Homo sapiens: one gene and its partners. The protein of the gene in region 1 purifies or fractionates together with the protein of each later gene. This does not show direct contact. Each region holds a gene or a part of one and is shown in the gene's direction. Other genes may lie near its edges.

Region 1 (5,287 bases):
GTACCTACTAGCTGTAAGGCACTATGTTGGGCACTGGGGGAGTATAGTATGTTGAATACTATTAAGAAATCACTCATTAATTAAAGACATTTGTGGCTCACGCCTGTAATCCCAGCACTTTGGGAGGCCGAGGCAAGCGGATCACAAGGTCAAGGGATCAAGACCATCCTGGCCAACATGATGAAACCCCATCTCTACTAAAAATACAAAAATTAGCTGGGTGTGGCAGTGTGCGCCTGTAGTCCCAGCTACTCAGGAGGCTGAGGCAGGAGAATCACTTGAACCCGGGAGGCGGAGGTTGCAGTGAACCAAGATCACACCACTGCACTCCAGCCTGGTGACAGAGTGAGACTCCGTCTCAAAAACAAACAAACAAAAAAAAAATTAAAGACAATCTAGTGTCTTTTCCCACCTCAAGGTCTTATATTTTGTTTCATCTGCCTGGAACACCCTTCCCTTTGCTTTCTACATGGCTGGCTTATTCTGTCTTTAGATCCCAGCTCAGTTGTTACCTCCTCAGGGATGTCTTCCCCAACCACTCTAACTCAGTGTGCCAGCTCCATCATTCTGCTTACTTTATACCTTGTCAGGTTGTTTACATAGTAATACTAATTATTCGTCTGTTTACCATCTGTTTCCCTAGAAGAACACAAGCTTCATGAGGGCGGGGACATTCTTTTATTTTTATTTTAAGTTCCAGGGTACATGTGCAGGGTATGCAGGTTTGTTACATAGGTAAACGTGTGCATAGGTAAAAGGTGGTTTGCTGCACCTATCAACCCATCACCTAGGTATTAAGCCCAGCATGCATTAGCTATTTTTCCTAATGCTCTCCCTTCCCTGGCAGGCCCCAATGTGTATTGTTCCCCTCCCCGTGTTCATGTGTTCTCATTGTTCAGCTCCCACTTATAAGTGAGAACATGCAGTGTTTGGTTTTCTGTTCCTGCGTTAGTTAGCTAAAGATAATGGCTTCTAGCTCCATCCATGTCCCCGCAAAGGACATGATCTCATTCCTTTTTATGGCTGCGTAGTATTGCATGGTGTAGATGTACCACATTTTCTTTATCCAGTCTATTGTTGGTGGGCATTTGTGTTGATTCCATGTCTTTGCTATTGTGAATAGTGCTGCAGTGAACACACATGTGCATGTATCTTTGTAATAGAATGATGTATATTCCTTTGGGTATATACCCAGTAATTGGATTGCTAGGTCAAATGGTGTTTCTGGTTCTAAATTTTGGAGGAATTGCCACACTGTCTTCCACAATGGCTGAACTAATTTACATTCCCACCAACAGTGTAAAAGCATTCCTATTTCTCCACAACCTCTCCAAAATCTGTTGTTTCTTGACTTTGTAATAATTACCATTCTAACTGGCAATTATTTATTGCCAGTTAGACGTTTATTGAATGAGCATAATCGGTAAACATTTATTGAATGAGCATAAATGCTAAGAATTACAATGTGTTGTTGTGACTACAGTAATATGCAAGTTGTAGGCATCCTGAAGAACAAAGTGATTTACTCTACCTAGAAGAGCAGGGAATGGTGCTTTGCTAGAGAGATAATGCATGTTTGAGCTGGGTCATAAAGGAAGAATAGGAATTTGTCAAGTAGACTGTGGGAGAAAGGGCATTCACCATAAATGGCAGAGTATATGCAGAGGCAAGAAAGCGTAAACTAATATGGTGTGTGTTTAGGAGGTTCTGAGCAGGTTAGGATTGTTGAAACGTAAAGGTCTAGCAGGTAGCCGAGGGTGCTGAGTGTGGAGAGTGGACAGGGGCATTGCTTGTTATGCTAAAGAATTCGACAGTGGGCATCTATGAAAAAGTTTCAAGCAGGGATGTGACACAATGGAGTGATTAGGTAATTTAGAAAGATAGACACCAGGATAGTACAAGCAGGGGAAAGAGGAGTAGGGGCAAGACCGATTAGTAAGTAATTCCAGTTGTCCAGTTGAAAAATCAAGAGAGTCTCAACTCTGCAAATAACTCCATAGAGCAGTGAATGTCAATCCTGATTACACCTCAGAATCTGTAGGTTTTTAAATTAATATACACTCTTCTACCCAGATTCAGGAACTGCCAAAATAGGGATGACCCTTCTCTCTGGCCTGTGCTTTCTTGTGATTCTCTTAATTACAGTAGGAGGAAGTTCGAGAACACTGAGACAGGAACTGGTCAGAGGAATTTTACTGTCCCATTATTCCCTATCCAAGAAGATGCTAAATCAAACTTGTACACTATCTGTCCTGCTTCCAGCCCTTCTTCAAAGGTGGGATTTCCATAATCCTCAGCCAACTTTATGAGCATGATCTGGTGATTGCTTAGAGATTTGGGAGAAAAAGTAGCAGAGAAGAAGAGTTCTGACTGCTCTTATCACTTCCTGTTGCACAGAAACTGTGGGTCAGAGGTGATACCAATCTTTTTATCATCTGAGACATGTAAAGTGCTCATATCCAACTGATCTTTCTTTTCTCATTCAAGGCACTAAGGGGAAGATTTTTTCCCCTATTCTCTGGTAGAAACCTAGAAAACAAGCCGGCATGATCTCCAGATAAGCAGCTTTGAGCAAGAGTTCCCATGGGTATTATATTTTCTTCTTCCTCTAGTCAGCTGAAGAGCAAGCAGTAGACAGACCACTGTCAACTTTAGACTTAACTTGAGAACAGTAGGTAATATTCAGATGTTAAGAAGCATAGTGACAAACTCTTATAGGGTAGAGTGGTTATAAACTTAATGTGATAGAATAAAACATGAACTGAAAGTTTTAATCGGTTTATCATGATTTCTATTGTAGGTGAAATTATTTTGGCCCTTCATCAATTAGATCTTCTTCAGAAAACTATTGTCATATACTCCTCAGACCATGGAGAGCTGGCCATGGAACATCGACAGTTTTATAAAATGAGCATGTACGAGGCTAGTGCACATGTTCCGCTTTTGATGATGGGACCAGGAATTAAAGCCGGCCTACAAGTATCAAATGTGGTTTCTCTTGTGGATATTTACCCTACCATGCTTGGTAAGTAATGTAGTTCTGTAAATATTTATTTGTAATAATGCTGGAGAATGCAACTGAAGTTGTCAGTGAGTCAGTCTTTCAGTTAGTAGTCAGAGGTCCTGCTGACTTGTTTATAACCCTGAGCAACTCATTCAACTGTGAGTCAAATCTGTACTCTGAAGAATGAAGAGATTGTTTTTCATGTCCCTGTGGCCTTCACTTACTATAGTCATTTTCCCTCAAAAGATTTGTATTCAGGAGATGACTGTAAAGTAAGCCATGTAAGATATTCGGGTTCATAACCTTATAGATATGATTTGTACATCATTTGATTGTCTACCACCACCTCCTTAAAATGTAAGCATTTCCTTTCTGAATTATTCTATTCACTTTGAAACTAGTATGAACATATTCCTCCTCAGACTCTTTAGATAGTTCTGTACTATTTGCTTTACTAGCTTCTTAATGTCTACAAGCATAGCCATATGTCTAGAAAAGCAACATATGGATAAGGGTAGTTAGCAGTTTTTGTTGAAGATACTAGAATAACGACATAATCAAATTCAAAGGAAATCATAGAACTAACTTCTAGTTTCTATCTCATTTAGCAAAGTACTTTAAATTCATTAGCATTTAAACACTAGTTTCTCTGTTCTAAGGCACCATCAATTGGAAAAAGTACCCTCAATTCATAAATTTTGGTGAAAGAAAAAAAAATAGCACAAGTTATGTTCTCTAATTTCAGAAATGTTAAAATGTGAAAGAAAGATGCATCTTAAAATCAAAGAAATCAGAGTTCTTTTTATCTGCTTCCTTCTGCCACAAAGTTCTTCCCTTAATTTAACTAAATTTATTTAGAGTTAATTTAAACCAGCGTCCTTTCCTCTTTTATTTCATATCCCTTCTCATATAATTACACATACTTCTTTCCAGTTCCTTGAACTCTTTTTTTTTGTGTGTGTGTGATGGAGTTTCGCTTTTTCACCCAGGCTGGAGTGCAGTGGTGCGATTTCGGCTCCCTGCAACCTCTGCCTAACAGTTTCAAGTGATTCTCCTGCCTCAGCCTCCTGAGTAGCTGGGATTACAGGCGCCTGCCACCATGTCCAGCTAATTTTTGTGTTTTTAGTAGAGATGGGGTTTCACCATGTTGGCCAGGATGGTCTTGATCCCTTGACCTTGTGATCCGCTTGCCTCGGCCTCCCAAAGTGCTGGGATTACAGGCGTGAGCCACTAAGCCTGGCCAGTTCTTTGAATTTTTAATCTCTTCTGTTTCTTAGTCATCATTTGCTGGTTTCCCTTTATCCCAAAGTAATGATCACACTCAGCCATATCTGGGCCACTTTCTCATTCCATTAGTTTCTAGCTGATCACTATTACTTTTCCTCATTTCTGTGTTTTTTTTAAAGAAGTTTATATAGAACTGTGTATATTTGGGTCTCTTTTATTAGTATATTTAGAGTTTTATGAATATATATGAATTTAGAGTTTTATGAATATATGCCTATATTCTTTACAATTTCCTTCCTTAATTTTTCTTCATGTAGAACTCTCCCTACCCTCCCCATTCCCAAAGAAAATCTTCCTTGGGTCATCTTTGCTTGACTTTTTAGCCTCATTCTGTTTTCTTGAGGTATAGTGACCAGAACTGCAAAAAGGTATTGTAAAAGATTATGGAAAGCTGGGGTGATTCTTTCTCCGTTTTTCCCTCAGTATATTTCAAAGTGATAGTTGCCATTTTATCTATTTGACTCTAGCAGCTAAATAGTTAAATATCTTTAGGGAGTTGTCTACAGTGAGCCCTATTCAATTCTTAGACATTCTGTCATCATATATGTTAGTTAATTAAAATGCATGGTTTAAATCATTTTTCTTTAAACATTATTTTATATTTGCCCACAATGCAAATTTTGTACTCTACAATCTTGAGAAGATACCATTATTACTTCTTGCCATTTTATACATCATAAAAGTTAAAGGTCATCTGCAAACTAGCAGATTTCATAATGTATTTAACAGGTCATATAAGAAAATACTAAATAAAATTTGTTAGAATGGGGAAATTCTCATGCATCTACCTATCATCACTGCCTAATTTATGTTACTTGCTAATAAGAATTTCTCTAGCTAAGAAAATACTGTCTCAGAAACTCCTCTAAATTCCATCCCAACTCTTCTGTAAATGATGTAAATTCCCTGCACCTGTAGGTTTTTTTCCTGCAATTTGTCAATTATTATAATTCTCTAAAACTATAGTTTTATATAGATTTTTATTTTTCATAAGAT
Region 2 (5,287 bases), on another chromosome or scaffold:
TCTAAGGAGAAATCCTTACATCTGTTTATCTATTTTTTAATAGGGCAGCCATCTCATTTGCATATATACATTGGTCTGTCTCAAAATTTTATCTAGATTCCTCTGGCAAGCATTGAACATTTTTCATTTTTAAACATTCTATTTTCCTCTGGGTTCCAGAATGGGATGTGGATGTTAGAATCTTTTGGATTACATTTACAAGATGTACATTTTTCATCCCTATAGAGTGGTTTTGTGTCTTGACTGGATGCTATATGGGCCATCTTTGGCCAGTTCTTATAGTCTGCTTTCTACAATGCTTAGGGGCATCTCAATTTATTAACAAATTAGTGGTTGATGAGAATATACCTTCAAGCCTTCAAGGGCTGAACTTAATGACTGAAACTGAAGCAGTCTTGTTATCAAGACAATGACGTCATAGGAGGCTGTTCTTAATCTCTCTATTTTCCTTGGTTTCAAATGTTTTAGTTCATGTGCAGATGACTTTGGTCTAATTCTGACACTTTACCATTTATTCTAAATTCAGGAACTCCAATATTTCAGGAGAAGTAAATGAGCATAGTGGTGTTTCTGCCTTTTTTCCCCTCTTTGTTTTCTGTTTATTTGGTTTAATTAAACAAATGTTTATTTGGCACATTACTATATAACACTTGTTATGTAAGATTCATCCTATGTGCTGGGCATACAGAAAAAGACCCATACACTACCCACATGGCATTTACACTCTGGTAGGTGTTTCTCTCTCTCTCACACACACACACACACACAAACACACACAGACACACACATAAGTATCATTTTTCTATAGTGAGAATACTATAGGAGGGATATGTCCAGAGTACCTGGAGAGGAAGAAAGAATTAATTCTTCATGGACAAGTCGAGTAGTGCCTCAAAAAAAAAAAGGCCACATTTGAGCTAGGCCTTGGAGGAAATATTTTTCGGAGCTGGGAATGGAATTCCAGATTCAAGGACATTCCAAGAAGGAGAATAGTATCAACACATGGCACATTGTGGAAATGCGTGGTGTGTGCTGGGAAACATAAGTGATTTAAGATCTGGGAGTGACATGTTCACACTTTTTAATGTAACACTTTTTAGATGAGTCTTTTTTTGTTTTTGTGTATTCATACAATGAGTGTGTGTGGCAAGGTGAGGGGCACAGAGAAATAACACTGGGCTTTGCCCTCAAGAAATTTTCAGTTTCACTAGAAAGTTATGGCGATTAGAATTGTCTGGGAAACAATATAGATGTTTAAAAATTTAATGTGTATTCCCTCTGGTTATAAAAATATGATTCTCATTGAGAAAATTATCCTAATAGTTTTCTGCGTGGGTTATGATTTTGTAACAAGGAAGCAAAATGTTTTAGTCTGCTTTTATCTTTTAGAAGAGTTATTTGAAAGGCATTTAGGATCATGGGATGCTAAGATTGTAGGTGGCATGTCTGTACATATGGATAAAGTCAGTCTTGATTTCCTGTCTGAGGAGGTTTCTGACTGGTAATGCTTCCCTGGGCAATGAGGCACAATCGAATGCCGTCTCTTCCATGAAACCTTTCCACCTCCTACAAAGAAGTAGTTTTTCTATCCTCTCAGTTCCCATAGCTTATTTTGTTGTTGTTTGATGACAACTTGTATATTTTCTTCAATATGGTGCTAGTGTTTTTTTGTTTTGTTTTGTTTTGTTTTTGAGACGGAGTCTCGCTCTGTCACCCAGGCTGGAGTGCAGTGGTGCAATCTCGGCTCATTGCAACCTCTGCCTACTGGGTTCAAATGATTCTCCTGCCTCAGCCTCCCAAGTAGCTGGGACTACAGGCACCTGCCACCACGCCTGGCCAATTTTTGTATTTTTAGTAGAGACGGGGTTTTACCACGTTGGCCAGGATTGTCTCGATCTTTTGACTTCGTGATCCACCTGCCTCTGCCTCCCAAAGTGCTGGGATTACAGGCGTGAGCCACCGCGCCCAGCCCTAATGTAGTGCTAGTTTTGTAGTTGTCTGATATTCTACATTGGAAGCATTTTTAGATGTTTTAATCTCTATATCCCCCACGTGCCTTATACATTTTAGGCATTCTGTAATAATTTCTTGAATGACCTGTGTTTCCTTTTTTGGTGGATACAGTATTGAGAAACTGCCTTGGGAATAGAGAAGGTCACATACTTTTTCAAGAAACATTTGTAAAGTATTCTTTTGCTGTATTCATCCTCCTAAGAATCCTGTGAGAGAGATCATCTCCCACTTTACAGATGAGGCAACTGAGGCTTAAAGGAATCATATAGCTCAGAACTGCAAGAAACTTTGAATGTCATTTCATCTATGATTAGTGTCTGTCTGTAGAGGCAGGAGGGTGACAGAATGGTATAGATAAATAAGCCCTGTATAGATAGATAAGGCAGGAGTTTGTGGACAGATCCAGAGAGCATGCTTCTCTTATTCACCCAGCTTTCTCATGAACCTTTAGCTTATTTTATTTTATTTTTTATTAGAGGGGACTCAGAACAAGAGCCTTTAGCTTTTAATGTTAAGGTTGAGGAGAGGAAAGAAGGAAAAGGAGAAGTTACACAAAAAAGTTACGTATGAGCTGATTCTATTTTTGTGTACAAGACAAAAATCTTACGGTAGCAAGTGAAAAAAAGACAAGACTGGCTTAAGCAGGAAAAAACTGGAAGGGACATTTATAGCTCCCCTAGTTGGGAAGTTCAAGAGTAAATATGGCCCCAGACACACCTGGATACAGGGCCTCAGGCAGCATCTCCAAGGCCTTTCTCTTTGGCTATCTCTTGGCTCTTCTGCATAGTCGGCTCCATTGTCAGGTAATGTCCCTTCTCCTACTGATAAGATAACTAGAAGAGAAAAAGTTCTTTCCTGGTAGCTCCAGCAAAAGTTCAAAGATGAACTTTGATTGGGTCTTGGGCCTATCCCTAATTACATCTCCGTGGTCAAAAGAATGCTATGGTTGGCCAGGCTTGGTGGGGGTTGGGAAGTAGGATAGAGTCATCCAGTACCCCTGGGCCACTTAGAAAGCTTAAGAAATGGTTTTGGAAAGGAACTTCAGTATTTTACAAGAAGTAGAGGGATTGGGTGCCGGATGGACCAAAATAGCAGTGCCCACTGCACATGGCCTAAGTGTGTAGCCCACATATGGTTCTGTTATTCCAATGAATAATAGAGTCATTCTTTACTTCACTTATGCTTCTGGCTTGAGTGGCAGTGGCAGAAGCTGTGGTGTGGCAGGGAAGGGGTTATCTCACCTTCAGATTGGAGGAGATATGGATTGTTTGAATTTGAACCTTCAGTGAAGAGTTGACTAAAATGGTCCTTTTTATGTGGCTTTGGATCCTACAGAGTGAGACACTTGGTTCTCTGGTTTTCACTTGAATGACATTTGACATTTGTAGGACAGAAAACTTTATTTCATTAGTATAAATGAGAAATTATGATCCACTCAGAGTGATCCAGGCTATTTTTATCTATAGTCTCCAGAATGGAAACTTGGCTTATTCAGCACTGGCTATCTCTGATGGTTAATGAAAGAAGGAAAAAAAAAAAACTCGGCCGGAAGTTCACATGGAAGTCATGATTGCATTAGCATTGTTGGTACTCACCTTGAGGGAGAAGAAGATGAGAAAAGTTAGATAATTGTAAAAGTTCATTAGGTACAATGGGCACAGCTTCCTGTGGTCCTTTGAGCTGAGGGATGAGCAACTGTTCTCCTAACAGGAAGTATTTGCCACAGGAAAGCTTTTTCTTTAAGTCTTTTATGAAATCTCTTATTAGAGCCTCTTAATCATTTTAAGACTGCTCTTGAAACTTTTGTCTGATGTCTTCAATTTTTCTACTTCTTTGTAGAGCTGCTTAAAATGTTGATTTCTCCTTTTAGGACTGGGTTATCTTGTGTCCCAGCACTTAGAGTATAGTGAGAATAATGGACAACCTAGTTCGGTCCTTGACCTACATCTGTTAGACAGGTTTCACTGTGATGTTGACATGTTATGCATGTCTAGAACTGTTATAAATTAAATAGCATTTTTATAATTATGCATAATTCAAATGATAAATTCCTCATTACAGTCATGACCTCATTCAATTGGTAAAGATTTTTGTGTCTGCTGTGGACCATGCACCATGCTAGGCAGTGGGGATATAGAAATAAAAGATTCATTTCTGGTCCTCAAAGAGCCTAGGTTCTAGGGAAGATGAAAACACAGAATTAAGATACTTTGGGTGGGATGCGGTGGCTCATGCCTGTAAGCCCAGCACTTTGGGAGGCTGAAGCAGGAGTATCACTTGAACTCAGAAGTTGGAGACTAGCCTGGGCAACATAACAAGACCTCGTGTCTACTAAAAAAAAAAATTAGCAGGGTGTGTTGGTGTTCACCTGTAGTGCCAGCTGCGTAGAGGCTGAGGTGGGAGAGTTGCTTGAGACCAGACGATCAAGGGTGCTGTGAGCTGTGATCACGCCTCTGCACTCCAGCGTGGGGTGACAGAGTGGGACTCCATCTCTTAAAAAATATATATATATATATATGTATATATATACACACACACACTCTCACACACACACACACACACACACACTGTGTGTGTGAGGGCACATGAGCTAGAGGGATATGCAGGCAGGAAAGGCCTCCTGGAGGAGCTGATCCTTGAACCATGACAATATTTACCAAGAGACAAAGTGGTTTATGGAAATGCGGGTGAAAGACAGGGCAAGAGAGAGTGTGAGAGATGAGCTCTGATGTTTATATATGTTATTCTGAAAGGCGATAGGAATTCCTGACAGTTTTAAGTAGGAAAGTAGTATGGTCAGATTGACACTTTATTTTTTAAAACAGGTAGTATATTTACGTGGTTTAAAAATTTAAAAACATATAGAAGAGTATATAGTGAACAATTTCTCATTTACCCAGTAACTTTCCCCTCAGACAACCACTGCATGCATTTCTTATATATTTCCTCAGAGCTATGTTCTGCAAATATAAGTAAATACAAAAATAGTGTACCTGTATCCCTCAACCTACTTTCACGCTAATGACAGCATACCATACTTAGCATTTGTGCACCTTGCTTTGTTCTTGTAGCTCATCATGGTGAGATCTTTCCATATCAATATATCAAAAGCATCCTTTTTTATCCCCCTCTTCTTTTTTCTTTCCTATGGCTGCTTAATTTTCCATTTTATTGAAGGCCCACAATTTACTTAAAATGAGCCTGCTATTGATGGACATTTAGATTGTTTCCAGCCCTTTTCAGTTGGAAAATTGCATTGGGTACAGTAGACTAA
Region 3 (5,287 bases), on another chromosome or scaffold:
CCTCTTCTGGATCTACTCATGAAATTATCAGAGCTTTTTTTGGATAAGTTAGAATCCTCATCCTTTTGAGTTTATGGATTCCGTAGGTTTTGTATTTATATAAAACAATGGGGAAAAGTCATTTATACATTATTGAAAATGAGGCTCCTGTTAACCTACTTATGTATTTAGATTAGCAATCTTTAAGGAATTATTGCACAACAAAATATACTTAAAACTGCATTCAATATGGTCTTAGGTTTCAAAGGTATCTCAGAATCATCGTGAACTGACCCATATTACAACTAAAATGACCTCTTCAATGGTGCTTTTTGCTGTCTGGAATCTGAAGAATATTAGTGTTCCTTTTATTCGTATTTAAATGACTGTCTTCATACTTTTGTCCTCATTCTAGAAGGAAGTTAATTGTTCTCTGTACTTGTAAGGATCTTAGATTTTGAACAAAAGATGAAAAGCAGGACATAAAATAGTTTCTGAGTAGCCTTTTGCCTGACAGTGTTCTGTGTACACCTGCTTGCCACCTGGTTCAAGTCCTTATCCTGAGGTGCTTGTGGGTCTATGCAGACAACAGTAGTTGGTAGTTGAACAGTGTGTGTCTGGCCTCCACCACTGAGTGTGTGAGGTTTGAATCAGTCTCGGAGTCCTGGGGCCTTGTCTGGCTTTCAGAATCCAACTGTTGTCTTACTTCTGTTCTATAGGGCGGAAGGCTCCCTTTATATCATTTCCCACATCCTACTTCTAAAGATTAATTCATGGAGATAGGTCTGCCCTATCTGCCTTATCTGGGCGCTGATGACTAATAAGGGCACAAAGATGTTATTGCCATCAACTGAACTTTCCCTTCCTGCAAGCATTTTGACTTCCTGCACTTTTATACAGGATGGAGCTGGCCGGAACCAAACTTGTCTCTAGAATCATACAAGACTCTCTTTGGCTGTTGCTTAGAGCTGACCATTTGGGAATAAAAGATTGAGTAAGATGTAACAAAACAGGAATTCTGGGCTGTGTGTCTCAATTTATTGGAAGAAATTGTTTAATGGATAATTACTTACTTTTACAGACACCGCTAAAGAAAACCAAAGCTCTCATCGGAGAGATGGGGATGACTTTTTCCAGTGCTGTAAGTTTGAAAGTTAATTCAATTTTGTTAATTTAACTGTGTTTGTATTCTAAGAAGATACTCTCTTCTCGGGAATCTGGTATGATCTATGTGGTTTTTTCCTTGTTAAATGCCTGATCTGAAGGAAGGATTTATTTAATGTGAATTTTAATTGAAATATTACCTCTTATCAATTGAAGATTAATTGCAGATATTTCTAAGCCAGTCTCAGAACTAGAGAATTTTATTTTAAACCTTACCATTTGAGGTTTGAAAATGGATTATAAAAAATCAAGGAATATGTATGCTGTGTAAACTTTTCCTTGGTAAAAACCCAATTAACCCTAATAGCCAAAACTGACAAATAGCAACACACACACCCCATAAATATAGATGCAGAAATTCAAAATAAAGTATTAGCAATTCATTTTCAAGAACCATGTACATAACCAAGTGAATGGTAGTCTAGGAATGTAAGGGTAGCCTACTATCAGGGAATCCCTTGAACAGTAGCATAGTGTTATGTTTAAGTGCTCAGACTCTGGAGCCAGACTGCCTAGTCTGGAACACCCTCTCTGCCTCTTTTCTAGCAGTGTGACCTTGGACAAACTATTTAACCTCTCTGGCCCTCTTCCTCCCCATTTATAAAAGGGAGTACCAAAATCTTCTTCAGAGTTGTTGTGAGGTTGAGTTAATAGGTGTAGAGCACTTCTATCAGTGCCTGACTTATTTTTTCTTTTCTTTCTTCTTTTTTTTTTTTTTTTTTTGAGTGGCGCAATCTCGACTCACTGCAACCTCGGCCTCTGGGGATCAAGCAGTTCTCCTGCCTCAGCCTTCTGGGTAGCTGAGATTACAGGCACCCACCACCATGCCCTGCTAATTTTTTGTATTTTCAGTAGAGATGGGGTTTCACCATGTTAGCCAGGCTGGTCTTGAACTCCTGACCTCAAGTGATCTGCCCGCCTCGGCCTCCCAAAGTGCTGGGATTACAGGCATGAACTACCGCACCCAGCCAATGCCTGACTTCTTATAGTAAATACTACATGATGTTGGTTATTATATGTCTACCAACATGATACAAGTAAGTGAAAGAAGGAAAATTGAATGTTCTTCCCAATAGATACGAGAAAGTACTCTGAAATTTTAGCATTCTTTCCTGGTAATAAGCTATCATAAGAATACATCCTGACTATGATGCCTATTTCAAATACATAAGGTAAAAGACTCAGGGCATTGCTGTTAGGGATGAAACAGTGCTCCATTTAATGTTGTTCCGACTGTCTAGTCATAGCCATAAGTCTTATGGAAATAAGAGGTAAAAATATTGGAAAAATTATTTCTGCTTGTTTGGATTTTCTATCTAAGAAACACAGGAGAATTATTGAAAACCCTTTAAAATCACTAGAATTCAGCAAGATAAAAATGAAAAAATAAAAATTAATAACTTTCTTCCATGTAATCAGTTAGAAAAATAGAAGGCGGGAGACAAAATATCTCATTCATAATTATTTCTTTTTATTCTATATAAAGACAGAGAAAAGGTCTCACTCACTATGTAGCCCGGGCTGGTCTGGAACTCCTGAGCTCAAGTGATCCTTCCATCTCAGTCTCCCAAAGTGCTAGGATTACAGGTGTGAGCCACCATGCCCAGCCTCATTCATAATTTATAAACTCTCTAAGAGTAACTGGTTGGGGCCAGAAATGGCTATGACCTATGTATTTTACAAAATGATGCGAGTGGTAAGATAAAAAATATTTGATACGTAGATATGCACATCATTTTATATACATTTCTTTCTTTTTTTTCTTTTTTGAGACAGGGTCTCACTCTACCGCCCATGTTGGAGTGCAGTGACGTAGCTCACTGAAGACTTGAACTCAAACTCCTGGGCTCAGATGATCCTCCCGCCTCAGCTTCCCAAGTAACTCGGACTACAGGCATGCATCACCACACTTGGCCAATTTTTTTCCACTTTTTTTTAGTGACAGGGTCTCACTCTGTTGCTCAGGCTGGTCTCAAACTCCTGGCCTCAAGTGATCCTCTGCTTTAGCTTCCCAAATAGCTGGGATTACAGGTGTGAGCCACTGTGCTCAGCTAAGACACAATATTATGTAATAAAATGTTTATTCTAGTTGTAATCCTAACAAGATTATTTGAGACTCAAGTGATTCCAAAAGTTATCTGGAATAATAAATAGATGAGAATAATCAAAGTAATTTTTTTAAAAAATTACAGTGGCTCATGCTGTAATCCCAGCATGTTAGGAGGCTGAGGCAGGTGGATTGCTTGAGCTCAGGAGTTTGAGACCAGCCTGGGCAATATGGCAAGAGCCTATATCTACTAAAAATACTTAAAAATACCTGGGCATTGGGCCAGGCATGGTGGCTCACACCTGTAATCTCAGCACTTTGGGAGGCTGAGGTGGACAGATCACCTGAGGTCAGGAGTTCGAGACCAGCCTACCCAACATGGTGAAACCCCATCTCTACCAAAAATACAAAAAATTAGCCGGGCGTGGTGGCGAGCGCCTATGAGCCCAGCTACTTGGGAGGCTGAGGCATTAGAATTGCTTGAACCCAGGAGGTAGAGGTTGCAGTGAGCCAAGACTGTGCCACTGCACTCCAGCCTGGGTGACAAGAGCGAAACTCCATCTCAAACCAACAACAGCAACAAAAACAGAGGCATGGTGGTGCACGTCTGTGGTCCCATCTACTTTGGGAAGTTGGGGTGGGAGGATTGCTTAACCCTGAGGTTGCGGAGGTTGCAGTGAGCTGAGATCGCACCACTGTACTCCATCCTCGGTGACAGAGTAAGACCCTGTCTCAAAAAAAAAAAAAAAAAAAATTGCTCTACCAGATGCTAAAATGTAATATTAAGATAAACTGTGTACTGGCCATAAAATTGATCAGAAAACAAAAAGAGAAAGAGTTAAGAGTTGCCAATTTAAACTTAAGAAGTCAAACATCTAATAAAAGGCAAAAGTAAAAATGGGAAGTATTTGTAACATGACTGAATTCTTCCTTAACTTAAATCTTATGTAACAAGAGGCCGACAGCCCTGGGGGAAAAAAATGAGCAAAGCATATGAACAAACCGTTCACATAAACACAGTCAGTTAGTACATGTGGAGAATGTTCCTCCTCACCATTTTTTAAAAATGTCAAATCGGCTAGACACGGTGGCTCACGCCTATAATCCCAGCACTTTGGGAGGCCAAGGCGGGTGGATCACGAGGTCAAGAGATCGAGACCATCCTGGCTAACACTGTGAAACCCCATCTCTACTAAAACTACAAAAAATTAGCCGGGCGTGGTGGCGGGCACCTGTAGTCCCAGCTACTTGGGAGGCTGAGGCAGGAGAATGGCGTGAACCCAGGAGGCGGAGCTTGCAGTGAGCTGAGATCGCGCCACTGCACTCCAGCCTGGGCAATAGAGCGAGAATGTGTCTCAAAAAAAAAAAAAAAAAAAAAAGCCAAATCAAGGCCGGGCACAGTGGCTCACGCCTGTAATCCCAGCACTTTGGGAGGCCGAGGCAGGTGGATCATGAGGTCAGGAGATCGAGACCATTCTGGCTAACACGGTGAAACCCCATCTCTACTAAAAATACAAAAAATTAGCCAGGCATGGTGGCGGGTGCCTGTAGTCCCAGCTACTTGGGAGGCTGAGGCAAGAGAATGGTGTGAACCCGGGAGGCGGAGCTTGCAGTGAGCCAAGATCGCGCCACTGCACTCCAGCCTGCGTGACACAGCGAGACTCCATCTCAAAAAAATAAATAAAAATAAAAATGCCAAATCAAATTTGAAAGGCAAAAAAACTTGCTAATATTGAAAGGATAATACCCAATTTTTGCATGAGTGTGTGCTCAAATGCCCATTCCTTCCCTGCTGGTCCAAGTATAAGCTAGTATTCCTTCCCTGCTGGTCCAAGTATAAGCTAGTATTACCTTTCTGTGAAGTGGCTTGGTGATGTGTACCAATATGATTGGGTAGAATGGGGAAAATCTGTTGCTGACAGTAGCTAATGGAAATATAATTACAGTAGGGAAAAAAAGTCTGTGTCCAGTGTATAAAATGATATAGGAAATGTGTAAAGCTGCAGATCAGCCTGCAAATGAACCACTGTGTCTCAATTAGATCCAAGTAGTATTCTTTGTCTTTGGTTAAGACCCGTCTCTCACCATGCTGTGCCC
Region 4 (5,287 bases), on another chromosome or scaffold:
TCTAGTGGTGGAAAGCCGACTTGTCAGAGGGTGTATTCTGCTGGGATTTTACTGATGGGCAGTCAGGATGAATATTTAATACCCTCTGGATGTTGCCAAATCGGTTTTCTTCTATTTCTTATTGCTGACCCGGCAGATTGGGATAGCAGAGGGCTTTTCTTTGACTTCCATGAGTCCAGAGCATGTGAACACTGGCTCTCCTTTCACATTCTGAGGGATGGCTGCCCCATCCCTCAGAGGACTGGCCTCTGCCTTCTTTCAGGGGAGTCTGGGGTTCTCCTTCTTCCATCCCAGGTGGCTTCTGCCTGTTGTCTGTGCCAAGATAGAATGGGTGTCAGTGCAAGAGCCCTAAGAGGAGAGCTCAGCCCCTCCCAGATCCCTCAGGCCTGTTGTCATGGTAACACCGGGGCACTTGTTATTGGCATCAAGGAGCCAGGGTCACTGCCCTACCTGCAGACAGGTAAGGCAGGGTAGGGCACATCTGGGTAACCTTCATTAGCTATTTCCACCTGCAGACTCTTGCTGCTTTCCCCTTGCCCCTCCCTCCCTGTCTCTCTGCATGCATTGAGCACCTACTAAGTGCCAGGTTGCCATGCTGGTGAGGCTGCTGAGATGGGTGTGTCACGTTCCTGCCTTGCGGGCTCTGTGGGAGGCAGCAGGCCTAGGGACAAAGGAGAGCAGAAAAGCGTTACAGGTGTGGAGGCAGAGCCAGCACAGGGCATGAACGGGGGCAGGGGGCGTGAGGAGGGAATGGGGTAGGGGTGAGGGTGGGAGGTTGGGAAGGAGGAGTGGAGCATTTCAGGCTCAGAGAAGAGTGTGAATAAATATAGTCACGGAGGGTGGGAGCAGCATGCTTATCTTGAGATGACTAAAGCATGGGGTCTGGGGAGGGTTCACCCCCAGGCAAGCTGGCAGGGATCAAGAAGTCCCTTTTGTACATGGGAGCATGGGGTGAGGGTGGGCATATGTAATAGCTAAAAGCAAGGACAGACCAGACGGCCTGGGTTTGAATTCCAGCTCTACCACTAAGCCAGCTGTGTGACCTTGGGCAAGTGTCTTTATAAAATTGGGAATAATATTTATTTCATAGGATTGGTGAGGACCAAATAGTTAATATTTATAAAGTGCTTAGAATAGTGCTGAGCACATAGGACCAGATGAAAGTTTGCTAAATAAATGAGAATATCCTAAACTCAGAAATTAGGACTTTAGCTCATACCCAGATCATATACTCCATTTTTGTAATAATTTATAATGTTCCCTTTACCCAGAAATGAAATTCATATACAATATAACATTCCTAATCATATCTTTAAAATTTGCTATATTGTCCTAGTTGTGGGATAAAGAAAGTTTTTTTTAAAAAAAGTAGTTCATAGTAAAATAATGAGTTTCAGTGCGTAAATGCTCAGGACAGCTATGCTAGGAGGCACAGTCACAGTCAACGCTGTCTCTAAATGCACACTGACAGTCACTGTATCAGACTTGGCACCATGAGCAGGACTGCCATCCTGACAGGGTTTCTGAAGTCCTGAGTAACTCTTGCTACAATTCTGAACAAAACAAAGGAAAATCCTCTCTTGACTGACCTGGCATATTTTAAAACCATGCAAAATAAAAGTATTGTGATTATAGTAAAACGAAAGTAGGTTCTAGGCCCAGAGGCATAATTTTTGCCCATATGAATGTCATTCGAAAGTCACACAGGACACGAGGCAGAGTTTTGTTGCATGGAGTTGTCCCAGATACAATTTTACATCTTTAATGGCTTTATTCCATTGAATATATACCCCTCCCCAAATCAATATGGCAACCAGAGACCTGCTTGCAATTAGCTGCCTTATTGAGAACTGCTGTCACGGGCTGTGGGGTGGGCAGCCGTGGGCAGTAGCATGCCCCATTTGCCATTTAGGGAAATCCCCTGGCTGTGGCTAGGCTGAGAGGGAGGGAGTGTCATATGCAGGCCAATTACAAGAGCCTGAGAAAGAGATCATTGAGGGCCCAAATAGGGAATGGTCATGTGGAGAGAGCAGGGAGCCAAGGGGTGTTAAGGACAGAGGGACTCAGGGGTAGTAACAGTTTGACTGGCAGGCGCCTGTGCCACTGGCTTCCCATGCAGCTCACCCTGCATTCTTTCCTTGTCTCTCATCTGACTTGCTTCTCTCCACTTGAAACATCTCCTGCCGCAGCCACTGGCCGCCTCTATCTCTAGCATTACTGTCTGTTGTCTTTAATAAAGAGCAGTGTCTTCCTCCCTCAGTGCCCATCTCTTTGCACGTGCCACTCTGGCTGCTGCTCACAGCACTGCACAGAAACCACCTTCTCCAGACTTACCGGCAACCACCTCAGCAGCACGGCTGTTGCTTCTCAAACTTGAATGTGCATCAGAATCAATTGGAGGGCTCATGAGACTGCAGGTTGCTGAGCCTTACTCGCAGTTTTTCTGACTTAGCAGGGGCTGGCAGATTCCCAGGTGATGCTGATCTGCAGATCCATGGCGTGCACCCTGAGGGCCACAGGTGGTCAGGATCAAGTACAAGCTGCAGGCCCCTTGCAGTGTGGCCGAAGCTTACCTTTCTAACCTCATCCACTACACCTGAGCACTTGCTCCTCCTTGAATAGAGTGCACAGGGTAGTTGTCATCTTTTTCCTCTTGTCCCCTCTCTCTGGCGTGCCCTTTGATTCTCCTTCTCTGCTTGTTTCTCAGGGCCTAGCTCAGGGGCCATATACCTTTTGAAATGTTCTCTTTTCTATCAAAATCAGAATTGCCCCTCCTTTTGAAAAGTAACCACATTTATTCAACCATTCATTGATTAGTTTAACAATGATTGGGTCAGAGTCCCTGCCCTGCATATGCTTAGAATTTTGTAAGAAAGAGAAGATTTTAAGAATTACCTTCGTTGTAAGGCAGCAGTAACACAGCTATAGTAGAGCGTAAGGGAATCCTTTATTGAAGAAATAAATGAGTTTTGAGTGAGAAGAGCACGCACAGAGTGGAATCCGAAGGGAGGGTAGGCTGGCTGAGAAAGCTGCTGCTGGTCTCCGCTGCGAAGTTCTTCCCTCTTCCTGATGTCTCACCTTGAAACCACCCTATCCTGGCCTGTAACAAACACAACAGCCTCTCCTACCATACAAAACACAGATCTTCCAAGTTTTAATCACAAGCCTGGGAAGGAAACTCTCCAGTTGCAGAAAGAAAGGGCCACTCCCTCAAAGCAGGGCCTGGCCTCTGGGGGCTGCTGTGAAGGCAGCTGCTGGCGTGAGCTGGAGCAACTCTCGGACCCTCTTCCTGTCTCTTGCTGGATTCTTTCTTCCTCCTGCCAATTCACTGTTGGGGGTTAACCAAGCCTCACTCTTTTCTTTCACGTCTGCATTTATGGCCTCTCAAAGCCCATTCACTCACACGGCCAAGTCCAGGGTTTCTCAGGCTTGAAGCTACTTGTGAATCACCTGGGGATCTTGTTAAAGTGCAGATTCTGACTTACTGGGTCTGGGGTGGGGCCTGAGAGTCTGCATTTCTAACAAGCTCCCAGTGCTGCTGGTCCGAGAACAGCACTTTGAGCAGGAAGATTGCCACTTATGCTTGACAACTCCCATTCTAAGTGTTGAACTTTGAACTTGGGACAAGGCACAGAAACCAAAAAGGAATGAGAATAGCTAAAATTCACTGGGTGTTTGTTATATCCCAGGTTCTGTGCTAAACTCTTTTTATAGACCATTGCTTTTAGTCTGCACAAAACTCCTAATGGAGATAGAGACATTGTTCTTATTTTGCAGATGAAAACACCTGTGGTCTCTAAGTGGGCAGGGCTCTCCTAGCTCTGTGGAGGAAGGTGGTGCACGCAAGCTGTACACCGCCCAGGGCAGGGCTCTGGCAGGACATGGGAGGGCTCCCTAATTATATGTGGAGATTCCAGTCTCCCCTGTGCCTCAGGAAAGGTCCTACCTGCCCTGGAGATGTGGGAGGAAATCCAGAGCATAGAATAGGAGCTGACCCCTTGCCCACCTGTCAGACGTGCACCAAATTTAAAAAATGCCTCTCTTTCAAGCTTCTCAACACTTCACAATATTTTGACATGGGAAGGAAAAAAAATGGAAATGCTTTGAAACATTTCTCTTCCTTGAATTCATGTTCTCAGACCATGTGACTGAATAGAAGTTTAGTCATAGGATTCCAGTTTAACATATGCAGTTACTATAGCAATTGAGGTTTCCTTAGTAACAGTTGCAAAAATAATCCGGCCCCAATTAATAATACATTTTAAAGCTCTTTCTACTCCATGCTGAACAACCCAGTTTTTTTGGCCAAGAACCAGATAATTCAGGTGGTGTCATTTGCACTGATATAGATATCATTTGCATGCGGTGAATTGGGTTGGAAAGGAATGAAAAGGGAGCCGGTTGTTTCAAGTATTATAGGAATCCAATCTGAAAAGTCGACTGGCAAGCGAATGCAAATCTAGTTTCCAGAGCTTGGGAGCTTAATGGTAAACCCTGTCCTGGATTCCTAGTGTGCCCTAGAGGACTTTCTGCATTTGAAGAAGGGAGAAGGCAGAAGATTGGACTTGCTAACAAAAAAGATGAACCCGGGAGGGTGGGGCCGTGGCACACAGGATTTCTCTCTAAGTGGTGCCTGGTGTGTTCTTGATGGCGTGAGAAGGTCTGTGGGTTTGTGAATTCAACAAGTCTTCCTGGAGAGAATGTCCGATTTACTGCGGGAGATGCTCCGCAGTGTTGCTCAGTCATGGCATTGGGAATTGGACTTTGCCACACCTTGGCTTGCTAAATCCTTCCATCCATTCAGAACATTTGTCTGTGTGTTACAGGGAGACCAAGTGGCAGTCTGTGGCTTTCACAAGTTTTGGTTCTGTGATGCATGGGACTCAATCAACCCTTGATGCTGCCAAACCAAGCTTAAGCCAGCTGGCAGGCCAGGGTCATGACCAGTGGGCTGGGTCCTGGGTCTGGATGCAGTTCCTGGGGTTGAGCTGGACTAAAGAGACAAGAGTCTGACCAGTAGAGTGCTGGAGCCTGGCCAGGCATCCCTGCCCTGCCCCTGCCCCTGCCCTCCACACAAGCTCGGTTGGAGGAGGCCTAGGTTGCTGTCCCTGGGTGGAATCTGCACCTTGCCCCTGCTTTCTTTCTCAGCTGGGAAGTGGTTTGGTCCCTGTGGCGGAAAAACTAAGTGTGAAGAGAGTGGTGGAGGTGGAACAATTCTTGTACTATTAGTTCCCTAAGAGGAACTTAGAATTGTTTTTTTGTTTTTTTTTTTTCATTTTTAGTAGCG

What was found. Proteins that work in one complex are often made in the same cells at the same time.
Region 2: the proteins of ARSK (region 1) and SUMF1 purify together in Homo sapiens (affinity purification with mass spectrometry; one large-scale study listed by BioGRID and IntAct). This does not show direct contact.
Region 3: the proteins of ARSK (region 1) and GNS fractionate together in Homo sapiens (co-fractionation; one large-scale study listed by BioGRID). This does not show direct contact.
Region 4: the proteins of ARSK (region 1) and IGSF3 fractionate together in Homo sapiens (co-fractionation; one large-scale study listed by BioGRID). This does not show direct contact.

The regions. Positions count from the first base shown.
Region 1 is NC_000005.10:95,588,601-95,593,887, forward strand, and holds part of ARSK (arylsulfatase K precursor), read left to right. Parts: intron 1-2,800; coding exon 2,801-3,025; intron 3,026-5,287. UniProt on the Homo sapiens protein: Catalyzes the hydrolysis of pseudosubstrates such as p-nitrocatechol sulfate and p-nitrophenyl sulfate. Catalyzes the hydrolysis of the 2-sulfate groups of the 2-O-sulfo-D-glucuronate residues of chondroitin sulfate, heparin and heparitin sulfate.
Region 2 is NC_000003.12:4,459,894-4,465,180, reverse strand, and holds part of SUMF1 (formylglycine-generating enzyme isoform 1 precursor), read left to right. Parts: intron 1-5,287.
Region 3 is NC_000012.12:64,748,531-64,753,817, reverse strand, and holds part of GNS (N-acetylglucosamine-6-sulfatase precursor), read left to right. Parts: intron 1-1,060; coding exon 1,061-1,120; intron 1,121-5,287. UniProt on the Homo sapiens protein: Hydrolyzes 6-sulfate groups in N-acetyl-d-glucosaminide units of heparin sulfate and keratan sulfate.
Region 4 is NC_000001.11:116,590,358-116,595,644, reverse strand, and holds part of IGSF3 (immunoglobulin superfamily member 3 isoform 2 precursor), read left to right. Parts: exon of another isoform or gene 1-312; intron 313-576; exon of another isoform or gene 577-661; intron 662-2,334; exon of another isoform or gene 2,335-2,494; intron 2,495-5,287.